Homo sapiens: one gene and its partner. The protein of the gene in region 1 interacts with the protein of each later gene in a biochemical or structural test. Each region holds a gene or a part of one and is shown in the gene's direction. Other genes may lie near its edges.

Region 1 (7,031 bases):
ATCATTCTATGACAAAGACACATGCACTTGTGTGTTCATTGCAGCACTATTCAAAACTGCAGACATGGAATCCACCTAAATGCCCATCAATGGTAGACTGGATAAAGAAAATGTGGTACATATATACCATGGAATACTACGCAGCCATAAAAAATAACAAGATCATGTCCTTTGCAGCAAGATGGATGGAGCTGGAGGCCATTATCCTAAGCAAACTAATGTAGAAACAGAAAACCAAATATCACATGTTCTCATTTATAAGTGATAGCTAAACATTGAGTACATATGCACACAAAGAAGGGAATAACACACTGGGGCCTACTTGAGAATGGAGAAAGGGTGGAGAGAGAGGATCAAAAAACTATCTAATGGGTAGTAGGCTTATTACCTAGGTGATGAAATAATCTGTACACCAAACCCCTGTGACATGTAGTTTACCTGCAAACTGCACATGTACCTCTGAACCTAAAATAGAAGTTAAAAAAAAAAGTAATTTTGGGTGGGGCACAGTGGCTCATGCCTGTAATCCCAGCACTTTGGGAGGCTGAGGCAGGAGGATTGCTTGAGCTCAAGAGTTCGAGACCAATCTGAGCAACATAGGAAGACCTTGTCTCTACAGAATATTAAAAAATTAGCCGGGCATGGTGGTGCACGACTCTGGTTCCAGCTACATGGGAGGCTGAGATGGGAGGATCACTTGAGCCCAGGAGATTGAGGCTGCAGTGAGCTGTGATGGCACCACCGCACTCCAGCCTGGTTGACAGAGAAAGACCCCATCTCAAAAAAAAAAAGTAATTTTGGAAGGACATACCTGGGATATGTTAATAGCACATTTCATTTCTAAAGTCAGAGGAAATTATAAGATCATAACCAGGGATCTGTATTAGCGGACTAGTAGACAAGAGGACCTTAAAGATAGGGAGCTATTGCCTTTCCGCCCGTGTACGCCACTGAAGAAGCATCGTTAAAGTCTCTCTTCTCCCTTCCATCTTGTCTAAGTCAGAGTCTCCTAAAGAGCTCAAACAGCTGAGGAAGCTCTTCATTGGAGATTTGAGCTTTGAAACAACTGACGAGAGCCTGAGGAGCCATTATGAGTGATGGGGAATGCTCACAGACTGTGTGGTAATGAGAGATCCAAACACCAAGCGCTCCAGGGGCTGTGGGTTTGTCACATACGCCACTGTGGAGGAGGTGGATGCAGCCACGAACGCAAGGCCACACAAGGTGGATGGAAAAGTTGTGGAACCAAAGAGAACTGTCTCAAGAGAAGATTCTCAAAGACCAGGTGCCCACTTAACTGTGAAAAAGATATTTGTTGGTGGCATTAAAGAAGACACGGAAGAACATCACCTAAGAGATTACTTTGAACAGTTTGGAAAAATGGAAGTGATTGAAATCATGACTGAGGCAGTGGCAAGAAAAGGGGCTTTGCCTTTGTAACTTTTGACGACCATGACTCCGTGGATAAGATTGTCATTCCGAAATACCATACTGTGAATGGCCACAACTGTGAAGTTAGGAAAGCCCTGTCAAAGCAAGAGATGGCTAGTGCTTCATCCAGCCAAAGAGGTCGAAGTGGTCGTGGAGGTGGTTTTGGTGGGAATGAAAACTTTGGTTGTGGAGGAAACTTCAGTGGTCATGGTGGCTTTGGTGGCAGCCATGATGGTGGTGGATATGGTGGCAGTGGGGATGGCTATAATGGATTTGGTAATGATGGTGGTTATCCAGGAGGCGGCCCTGGTTACTCTGGAGGAAGCAGAGGCTATGGAAGTGGTGGACAGGGTTGTGGAAATCAGGACAGTGGCTATGGCAGGAGTGGCAGCTATGACAGCTGTAACAAGGGAGGCAGAGGCGGCTTTGGCAGTGGTAGTGGAAGCAATTTTGGAGGTGGTGGAAGCTACAATGATTTTGGCAATTACAACAATCAGTATTCAAATTTTGGACCCATGAAGGGAGGAAACTTTGGGGCAGACGCTCTGGCCCCTAGGGTGATGGAGGCCAATACTTTGCCAAACCACCAAACCACAGTGGCTATGGCGGTTCCAGTAGCAGCAGTAGCTATGGCAGTGGCAGAAGATGTTAATTGGGAATCAAAGCTTAGCAGGAGAGGAGAGCCAGAGAAGTGACAGAGAAGCTACAGGTTACAACAGATTCATGAACTCAGCCAAACACAGTGGTGGCAGGGCCTAGCTGCCACAAAGAAGACATGTTTTATACAAATACTCATGTTTATGGGCAAAAAAGTCAAGGACTGTATTTGTGACTAATTGTATAACAGGTTATTTTAGTTTCTGTTCTATGGAAAGTGTAAAGCATTCCAACAAAGGGTTTTAATGTAGATTTTTTTTGCACCCATGCAAAAAATTGCTATATGTGATAGTCTGATCATGACACTGAATAAATGTCTTTTTTTTTTAATGTGCTGTGTAAAGTTAGTCTACACTGAAGCCATCTTGGTAAATTTCCCCAACAGTGTGAAGTTAGCATTCCTTCAGGGTGATGCCAGGTTCTATTTGGAATTTATATACAACCTGCTTGGGTGGAGAAGCCATTGTCTTCAGAAACCTTGGTGTAATTGAATTGATAGTTACTGTTGTGACCTGAAGTTCACCATTAAAAGGGACTACCCAAGCAAAATCATGGAATTATTGGTTATAAAAATAATTGTTGGCACATCCTATGCAATATATCTACGTTGAATAATGGTACCAGATAAAATTATAGATGGGAATGAAGCTTGTGTATCATCCATTATCATGTGTAATCAATAAACAATTTAATTCTCTTGAAAAAAAAGATAGGGAGCTATTTAAAGATTATTAGGAAAGCTTACTAGCTAAGATGGTTAATACCTTGTCTTATCTTGCACATCAGCTTCTGTCTTTTTCTCATCTATTACCTGAGTTAAGTTATAGTTGGTCTATTTGGTATCCTTAAAACTTAGGGGTTGCTTTGGTTGGTCGTGTAATACTCTAAGAGAGAGAATACCAGTTTTGCCACCTGAATGTATTGCTTTGTTTCTTCCATAAACATTTAAAAAATACTCTCTCCATATTCACCCCATTTAAAAATTAGAAAAATAATATACATTTATTGTAGAAAGTTTGGAAAATACAAAAAATACTAGAAGTAAATAAAAAATTTCATAGAGTTCTACCACCTAGAGGAAATAATGTTTTTCCTTGATTGATATAATGGATGCTTTCCTTTGAAACATTTTTTTTTGTTTTGAGACAGTCTCCCTCTGTTACTCAGGCTAGAGTGCAGTGGTGTGATCTTGTCTCACTGCAACCTCTGCCTCCTGGGTTCAAGTGATTCTCCTGCCTCAGCTTCCCAAGTAGCTGGGACTACAGGCGCGCACCACCACGCCCTGCTAATTTTTGTATATTTAGTAGAGACGGGGTTTTGCCACGTTGACCAGACTGGTCTCGAACTCCTGACCTCAGGTGATCCACCTGCCTTGGCTTCCCAAAGTGTTGGGATTACAGGCGTGAGCCACCGCACCCGGCCTTGAAACATTTGTTTTAAAATAGTTGGCCAGGAGTGGTGGCTCATGCCTGTAATCCCAGCACTTTGGGAGGCTGAGGCAGGTGGATCATTCGAGGCCAGCAGTTCCAGACCAGCCTGGCCAGCATGGTGAATCTCCATCTCTACTGAAAATGCAAAAATTCGCCAGGTGTGGTGGTGCATGCCTGTAGTTTTAGCTAATTGGGAGGCTGAGGCAGGTGGATCATTCGAGGCCAGCAGTTCCAGACCAGCCTGGCCAGCATGGTGAATCCCCATCTCTACTGAAAATGCAAAAATTCGCCAGGTGTGGTGGTGCATGCCTGTAGTTTTAGCTACTTGGGAGGCTGAAGCAGGAGAGTTGCTTGAACCCGGGAGGCGGGGGTTGCAGTGAGCCGAGACTGTGTGACTGCACGGAGTGAGACTCTGTCAAAAAAAAAAAAGAAAGAAAGAAAGGAAGGACGCAAGGAAGAAAGCAAGGAAGGAAGGAAGGAAGAAAAGAAAGAAAGAAAGAAAGAAAGAAAGAAAGAAAGAGAAAGAGAGAGAAAGAAAGAAAGAAAGAAAGAAAGAAAGAAAGAAAGAAAGAAAGAAAGAAAGAAAGAAAGGAAGGAAGGAAGGAAGGAAAGAAAGAAAAAGAAAGAAAGAGAAAGAGAAGGAAAATATGTGTATGGTATATATACCATTTTAATCATTTCTTAAAGTAAACATTGTGGCCATTACTTTACTCGTGCATAATACTTTTTCACACCTTAATTATTTATCTTCATTTCCCAGAAGTGAAGTTCCAGGGTAAAAGAGAAGGAATGCTTTTGAGGCTATTGAGACATACTGCTCAACTGCTCTCTGGGAAGATGTTGCCAATTTGCATTTTCACCCCTGTGAAATGCATGTTCAATTTGCATGCCCACGTGAACACTCCCATTTCCCTGAATCCCAGTTAATGCTGGGCATTATTAATTAAAATTGTTTTTCAATTTGAGAGACTAAAATGGTATCTTGTTTTAATATTTATTACTCTGACTATTTCTGAGGCCAATATTTTTTTCACATTGTTATTATCCATTTCTTAAATATGTTTTTCCTCAAATTGAGCTGGGGAATTTTCTTCAAATAAGAAATAGCACTGAATTGCATAATGTTCACTCTGTTTGATTTGTCCCATCTCTGCCTCTTCCTTCCCTAGAGATACTCAAGGAAGTTATTTGCTTGCACCAGCTTAAGAAACCTCACTTCACACAGTCCCAATGTATCACACTTGAGCAACTGTGCAAGAAAGGACATAATTTAGTATTGCTAGGAAGTATATTTTTAGTAGTTCCTGTGCAGGTAGAAGCAAACTGCTGCTTTGCAAAGATCTCAGGGATAGAAAAGCTGCTTTATTTATTTATTTATTTTATTTATTTTGAGACGGAGTCTCACTCTGTCACCCAGGCTGGAATGCAGTGGCGCGACCTGGGCTCACTGCGACCTCCTGGGTTCGAGTGATTCTCCTTCCTCAGTCTCCCGAGTGTCTGGGATTACAGGCACCCACCACCACACTCGGCTAATTTTTGTATTTTTAGCAGAGATGGGGTTTCACCATGTTGGCCAGGCTGGTCTTGAACTCCTGATCTCAAGTGATCCACCCGCCTTGGCTTCCCAAGGTGCTGGGATTACAGGCGTGAGCCACTGCGCCTGGCCAAAAAGCTGCCTTTAAAAAAAATGTAGACAAGGTAAAAAAGATATTACTATGTTAAATGTTTAAGCACTTGAGAAAGGAGGTGATGGATAAGTACTGAGTTTTATGTACCAGTAGCATCAGTCACATACTTTCCCTTTTTTGTGTTTGTTTTGTTTTTAATCATCTGCCTCTATTTCACATCTACTTTCTCTGTTGGTTTTTTAGATTGGACAAGCTGTCCTCGAAGACAGTCTTAGATTCTTAAAATTAAATCTTATTTTATTTTTTTGGAGACAGTGTCTTGCTCTGTTGCCCAGGCTGGAGTGCAGTGGTGTGATCTCAGCTCACTGCAACCTCTGCTGCCTCCTGGGTTCAAGCGATTCTTATGCCTCAGCATCCCATGTGGCTGGAATTACAAGCATGCACCACCACGCGCAGCTAATTTTTTGTATTTTTAGTAGAGACAGGGTTTCGCTATGTTGCCCAGGCTAGGTCTCCAACTCCTGAGATCAGGCAGTCTGCCCGCCTCGGCCTCCTAAAGTGCTAGGATGAGCCACTGTGCCAGGCCTTAAAATTAAATTTTATATGTAATTTAAGAATAAGAATATTTACCATGTGTTCCATTTCTGTGCTTTTCTCCTGCTTCTTGGTCAGACTTGTAAATTTTCAGGAAATGGTCTGTTTTATGAATAACAGATTAGCAAACGAAACCATTGTCCTTTATTTTTTCTATTTCCATCTTCCAGATTTGGTGAAATTAGTAGCTTAAAAATGATACACATTGGAGAACTCAGTAAAGAATGAAGGATGAACTGCTACACAAATAAGTCCTAAACAAGAAATTAGTGTGTAATCTCATTCTTAACCCTGTCTCTGTGCAGTCTTGGAAGTGGATCCTTGCACCGGTCATTCTTTATATCTGTGAAAGGATCCTCCGGTTTTACCGCTCCCAGCAGAAGGTTGTGATTACCAAGGTAAAGAATATGCACTTTCCTCTTGCTGTGATAAGAGTTATCTTCTACCGGACTACAGAACTAAATTTTTATGTTGTCACCCTGAAAGAGGAACTTGGAAACTGGGCACAGTGGGTGGTAGTCCCAGCACTTTGGGAGGCCAAGGAGGGCAGATCTGTTGAGGTCAGGAGTTCGAGACCAGCCCGGCCAACATGGCGAAACCCCATCTCTAATAAAAAAAAAAAAATTAGCTGAGCGTGGTGGTGCCCACCTGTAATTCCAGCTACTTGGGAGGCTGAGGCGGGAGAATCGCTTGAACCCGGGAGGCAGAGGTTGCAGTGAGTTGAAATAGCGCCACTGCACTCCAGCCTGGGTGACAGAGAGAGGCTCTGTCTCAAAAAAAAAAGAAGAAGAACTTGGGTTTGGCATACCTCAGTTCCTCCAGCACTGGACAGAACTGGGAAAGAGGGGCTTGGCCGAAATCATCAGGATGAGTCTATATCAGAGGTTGCAAACAGGCAGCCTGGGCCAGAGCTAGTTCACAGCTATATTTTGTTTGGTGCACACAATGTTTGTTTATAAAGTTGAATTGGTTGCCAACATTTAAAAATCTGGATGGAAGCTTTCGTTTGATTTTTTAAAAGCTATTTCTTGCTTCTCTTGAAGAATCAGGAAACCTGATAACACTGTCATGGTTCCATATCGCAACCACTGTCTGGAGCTAAGTAGCTGCTGCCCTCTTTAGAGAGGACTTGTGTTTGTAGTTCACCACTGTCACCAGCCCTCCAGCTTCACTCATTTGCTTTATCTGCCTGTCCCTGTCGTCATTAGAGTTTGCTTTCTTTGGTCTATGTGCTTCATTCACAGGTTGTTATGCACCCATCCAAAGTTTTGGAATTGCAGATGAACAAGCG
Region 2 (5,954 bases), on another chromosome or scaffold:
ATGTTGCTGTAGAGTAAAATGTTTTTATTGCCAGATCTTTGATGTATAAACACTCACTGTATATGTTCTGATTGGTCTCATATGTCTTTGCTGAAACTCTTGGAATAATGGCTCAAAATGGGATGAATATCCAGAGCAGTACAGTCACAACCTTTAACTTCCTCCCTGTTGAAAATGCTGGGGTTTCAACAATCCGTAATTCCGATTTGAAAAGGGCTACAGTTTCCTTCCCTCTCTGGCTTTGGTCATGAGGAGGCCTGGGCTCGGTAGACAGAGGTGAAGAGAACTGGTAAAAGATGCCCTCCTCTAGCTTGCCTGGATGAACGTTTTTAAATGCATAATTGCTAGAACTTAATATTTAAGTGACATGGTATAGTCAAGTTGTTTTTCTTCATTCTGCCATGGTATTCGCCTGAGGTTTATTTATTATTTTTTCATGATCCTAGGTTCACGCAAAGAATCTGCTCCACAAGTTTTGCTTCCAGAAGAAGAGAAAATTATAGTGGAAGAAACTAAAAGTAATGGTCAGACAGTGATAGAAGAAAAGTAAGATGTCTTCCGGTATTCTAAAGCAGATGTTTGACCTCTGCGGTGGGGTAGTAGAGTCCAGACAACTCCCTGAGGGCGGGGGTATGGCTTCAGAAGCTTCACTTTTTTTTTTTTTGAGACGGAGTGTCACTCTTGTCACCCAGGCTGGAGTGCAATGGTGCGATCTCAGCTCACTGCAACCTCCACCTTCCGGGTTCAAGCGGTTCTCCTGCCTCAGCCTCCCGAGTAGCTGGGATTACAGGCCTGTGCCACCACGCCTGGCTAATTTTTGTATTTTTAGTAGAAACGAGTTTTCACCCTGTTGGCCAGGCTGGTCTCAAACTCCTGACCTCAGGTGATCTGCCCGCCTCGGCCTCCCAAAATGCTGGGATTACAGGTGTGAGCCACTGTGCCTGGCCAGAGCTTCACTTTTAAAATGTCTTCATAGGCTGAAGTTGCCCTTGACTAGGCTTGAACCTGCCATGCACAGAGGTTGGCAGTTTTTAGTTGTGAATGTAGACAGTACATGGGTAAGGCAGAGCAGCTCCGTGTCCTCCTCTCAGCATCGTAGTGTCTCCTGGTAAGTTTTCGTGTGTCCTCTCCATGCCTCACCTTGTTCATGTGTGTGTGTTCTGTTTCCTGTTTCAGGAGTCTTGTGGATACCGTATATGCATTAAAGGATGAAGTTCAAGAATTAAGACAGGTACGTCATAATCCATCTTTAAATCTTTTTTTTCTTTTCAAATGGGAGAAAAGAAGAAAATTACATTAAAAATAAGCTGGCTGGGTACGGTGGCTCACACCTATAATCCCAGCACTTTAGAAGGCCGAGGTGGACAGATCACCTGAGGTCAGGAGTTCAAGACCAACCTCACCAACATGGCAAAAACCCATCTCTACTGAAAATACGAAAATTAGCTGGGCATAGCGGCAGGTGCCTGTAACCCAGCTACTTGGGAGGCTGAGGCAGGAGAATTGCTTGAACCTAGGAGGCGGAGGTTGCTGTGAGCCGAGATTGTGCCACTGCACTCCAGTCTGAGCCACAGAGCAAGACTCCGTCTCAAATAAAAATAAAAAGCTGATTGTCCATAAGCAAAAAACTAAAAGGAGGTCATGTCTTTGAGAAGTCCAGCAGATAAAATAATTGGTTGTCTCTAAAGTGACTTGTTTAAACTCTTTTTTTTTTCTTAACAATACTGATTTTGATGTCATAAAACATCGCAAATTCTGTTGGAAGAATAATTTAAAATATCGAAAGTTCTGTCTGGTGACAAATCCTGCGAGGCGCCCCTGAGATTAGCCTCTGCCACTGCATGGTCCTTGGCTCCCGAAGCCAGGTTAGCGAGCCAGAAGTGGCGACTAACCAAGGGTGTTCTGGGTATTGCACGGAATGTGAGTATGAGCAGCTTTGGTCCTCTGCCCAGCTAGGCGAGGGAAGGTTGGGGTGTTCATTGCACGGAATGTGAGTACGAGCGGCTTTGGTCCTCTGCCCAGCTAGGTGAGGGAAGGTTGGGGTGTTCTTTTGGCCGAGGAACAGCCTGAGAAGAGTTGTGGTCTGGGATAGAGAGCTGAGAGCAGGTTGCTGTGTGGAACTGGACATGTGCTGTCATTCTAAGCAGTGTCCGCAGGTCTTCCAGGTACACCTTTGCCTGGCTGGCAGGCTTCCATGTTCACGCTTTGCCCCTACCGGCAGCAGGCATCTGTTTGTGCATGCCTCCTACGTCCGAGACATGCCTGGGTTCAGCTGCACAGAGCAGGTGCTCGCCCACTTGCTCCTGCACCTGTCAGTGGCTGTTACTTCCAGTCCTTTCTGTAACTCTGGAAGGTGGTTATAAATGGACAAAAAGGCTGGATAGGAGCTGTCTCGTCCGCAGTTTCCAGCTATTTTCTTACGGTATGTTCTATAGAGATTCATTCATGGACTTAATAAGAGCCATTAGGACCATTTCCATCCCGGGAACAGCAGCACAGTCAGGAGCACCGCTGCCACCCTGTCCAGGTGTTTGACCTTCGTGGATCCCCACGACCTCAGAGCCCATAGGCAGCTCACGTGGGATTTCATGAATCGAGGCCTTAGCTCCTCAAGGATACACATTTGGGGAAAGGAAGCCCTACGCGATGCCAAAGATAGTGAACACCCTGTGGTCTGCTTAATTTACAGGACAACAAAAAGATGAAGAAATCTCTAGAGGAAGAACAGAGAGCCCGCAAAGACCTGGAGAAGCTGGTGAGGAAAGTCCTGAAGAACATGAATGATCCTGCCTGGGATGAGACCAATCTATAAGGGATGTCCTCAGTTCTTTCTGTTGAAGACCAGTTCTGAGGTGAAGCTGGGCACCCCTGACCCAAGTCGGGGTGCACTCAGGACCACAGGGCAGGGCTGGGTGGGGCGCCACCTTGCTCTCTGTATATAGAAAAGCTGGAGCTTATTCTGCGAATGGAGACGATCAAACCATGACTGATGAATCCAGACAGGAGGGATTGACTCTGAGGACCTGAGCTACATCAATCCACTCTGTGAACATCTCAGTTACCTCATTCTGCAATAAGTTCAGTGACTGACTAAAAGTCTTGTTTTTCCAGACTTTGAATTGAATATATAAATATTATATATACATGTTTCTTGTAAATATCCCATTTTGAATGCATACCTGTGGTGGTTCTGTCCGGGCTAATCCCCATGCTAGAATGTCCTTTCCAGCTACGTGAATAAGAAGTCCCATGCCCGCATCCACCGGAAGCAGAAGCCTGGTGGATGCCTGGTTCGTTCCGCAGCACCAGGGCCTCCACCGTGCTGTGGCAGCACCCCCCATGTCGGTATTTCTAAATAACCTTATTTATACCTGCAGAGATACACTTCAGTCCCATTCAGAAGTCTTCTCTTAAAGCAGCATTACAGTCCCAGACCTGCGGGTTTCTGAGGGCAACTTGCTGGCTGACAGACTCAGTCTTGACCTCAAGGAAGGCCCATACGGCACTGCCGCATCCACCTAGAGGTGTTTGCTCTTGTCCGCTGTCTGAGTACTGTGATTCTCAGATGAGTTTGCTGCGTTTTGGGAGGACACAGACGGTTCTGTATAGGCTAGTTCAGTAACAACAAAATACACTGTTTTGTCTTCCCTCAAAGAGAGATCTTACTAGAACCTGTAAATAGAATGTATTATTTATTATAAGTCACTGCAGCTGATGAAAACAGATGGAGGCCATGCTGCAGGCTGATACTGATGGGTGGAGTTTTGTCATCAGGCCAGCCTCATCCCGAGGTCTCCTCCACCATTGGCCGTAGCCAGCAGGCTTCAGTGCTCACCGAAAGTAAAATCCCCTCCTTCAGCAAGAATAAAGCAATATACACCTTAGGTTCCACTAAGTAACATAGGCATAAGCAGGGAACGTTTCCCCCACTGTGTTCCAGTGCAGAGGAGACGAAGCCTGTCCTCACCGCGGCTCGCTGGGCCCAGGCTGGCTCTGGAAAGCCTGTGCGGTCCTGGGCAGGAAGCCCGGCCCGTGGAGCAGGTTTTCGTTCTGCTTCAGCAATAAATAAGGGTGACCACAGGGACTTTGCTTTTGGTTTCCTTTCCTGTGAAAAGGTTGGTTTTAAAGTGAGATACACTTTTCCGTAGAACAAGTGTTCTATCTTTAAAAACCCAAATTGCAGCACCGTGGATTACTGGTCTCAGAACAACTCATTGCGCATCAGATTTGACTCTCTGATTTTCTGTCTATTGGCCAAATTGCCCTTTAACTGCACCTGAATCCTTTGTGTACTGATGCCTTTGAGCTGGGCACCTTGGGAGAGTGTTGTGTTGCTGTTTACGGTTCTTCCTTGCCCTTGCTAATTACAGTCTCTGGTGCCCAGCAAGCCCCTTTGGCTTCCTTCCGTGACTGGTCACGTTGTCTGCCTGGGCTCAGCGTGGACCTGCCCCATGCTGCAGAACCTGGCCTCACCTGGACTTTTCACTAGAATTGCCAGCTTCCTCAACTTAGCAGATCATTCACTCATGCGGGCACAAGCAAAGATCAACACTTTCTTTTTTGGTAAGCTTGAGTTTTACAAGTTATTTTTTGGTGATGCGTAAGACATTGCAGTGGGAAACCATTCAACTTGAGTTTATTGGAGTTTGCTGTTGTAGCAGGTTTTAACTCAGGAACAACTCTTGTCTGATCTCTCCGCCCCTCTGCCGGGAGGCGACATTAACTGTCCTCTCGGAGCCGGTAGCGTTGCTGTCCGAGTCCCCAGGACGGATCTCCTGCAGACCTGCCTTAATGCTCAGATCGAAGTATTTCACAAGAATACTTGTGTTTTTAACAGCCCTTCCCCTGGACGGTGCGGCCATGAGGGCCTCATGTTACGGCATTGCCTTTTCTTTCTGTGGATCCAGTATCTTCCTCGGCTTTTTAGGGAGCAGGAAAAATGCGTCTGAGAGCAACTCTTTTTAAAAACCTGCCCTGTTGTATATAACTGTGTCTGTTTCACCGTGTGACCTCCCAAGGGGGTGGGAACTTGATATAAACGTTTAAAGGGGCCACGATTTGCCCGAGGGTTACTCCTTTGCTCTCACCTTGTATGGATGAGGAGATGAAGCCATTTCTTATCCTGTAGATGTGAAGCACTTTCAGTTTTCAGCGATGTTGGAATGTAGCATCAGAAGCTCGTTCCTTCACACTCAGTGGCGTCTGTGCTTGTCCACATGCGCTGGGCGTCTGGGACCTTGAATGCCTGCCCTGGTTGTGTGGACTCCTTAATGCCAATCATTTCTTCACTTCTCTGGGACACCCAGGGCGCCTGTTGACAAGTGTGGAGAAACTCCTAATTTAAATGTCACAGACAATGTCCTAGTGTTGACTACTACAATGTTGATGCTACACTGTTGTAATTATTAAACTGATTATTTTTCTTATGTCACAGAATGTGTCGCTTCGTCTTCTTTGATGTGTTTTCTGTGTGCTTGTTAGCTTTACAGTTTCTTTGGGCTGTTTTAGATTTGAAAATTCTGTCTGTCTTTGATACTGAAGATAACATGTTTCCTTTAAAGTCTAGAGTTTGAGAAAATTTGAAGATTTTTTTTTAAAAGACAAGGAAAGAACACTGGAAGTCTTAGGAACAAAAGCTGAAGTAACAGGTCACGCTGGTAGGCACAGCCCCCAGGTCCTCACCCATGCCTGGAGGAATGACCTGCATTCTGGAAGGCGCTCAGGACACCGTTTTGTGGGATCAAGTAAGCGAAACTTTCTTGAAGATATCTGTGGGGTCCCTTTTAGGAGCTGTCATAAGACAAAAGGAAATTGCTCGTGTGTGTCCCTGTGTGGCGGTGGTGCAAACGAGGGTGTCTTCCGGAAGGGTGGCCGGGAGGACCAAGCGGGGTCTCCTGTCCATGGTCCGTGTACCTGGCTCAGGTGTGTCTACAGCTCCGCTGCATGTCATTTCA

What was found. The genes of interacting proteins can lie anywhere in the genome.
Region 2: the proteins of NOX1 (region 1) and ARHGEF7 form a complex in vitro, tested with the Homo sapiens proteins (one study listed by BioGRID).

What each region holds. Positions count from the first base shown.
Region 1 is NC_000023.11:100,850,340-100,857,370, reverse strand, and holds part of NOX1 (NADPH oxidase 1), read left to right. Parts: intron 1-929; exon of another isoform or gene 930-2,798; intron 2,799-6,045; coding exon 6,046-6,138; intron 6,139-6,984; coding exon 6,985-7,031. UniProt on the Homo sapiens protein: NADPH oxidase that catalyzes the generation of superoxide from molecular oxygen utilizing NADPH as an electron donor.
Region 2 is NC_000013.11:111,300,302-111,306,255, forward strand, and holds the end of ARHGEF7 (rho guanine nucleotide exchange factor 7), read left to right. Parts: intron 1-446; coding exon 447-546; intron 547-1,176; coding exon 1,177-1,231; intron 1,232-2,689; coding exon 2,690-2,812; 3' UTR 2,813-5,431; downstream 5,432-5,954. UniProt on the Homo sapiens protein: Acts as a RAC1 guanine nucleotide exchange factor (GEF) and can induce membrane ruffling. Functions in cell migration, attachment and cell spreading. Promotes targeting of RAC1 to focal adhesions. May function as a positive regulator of apoptosis.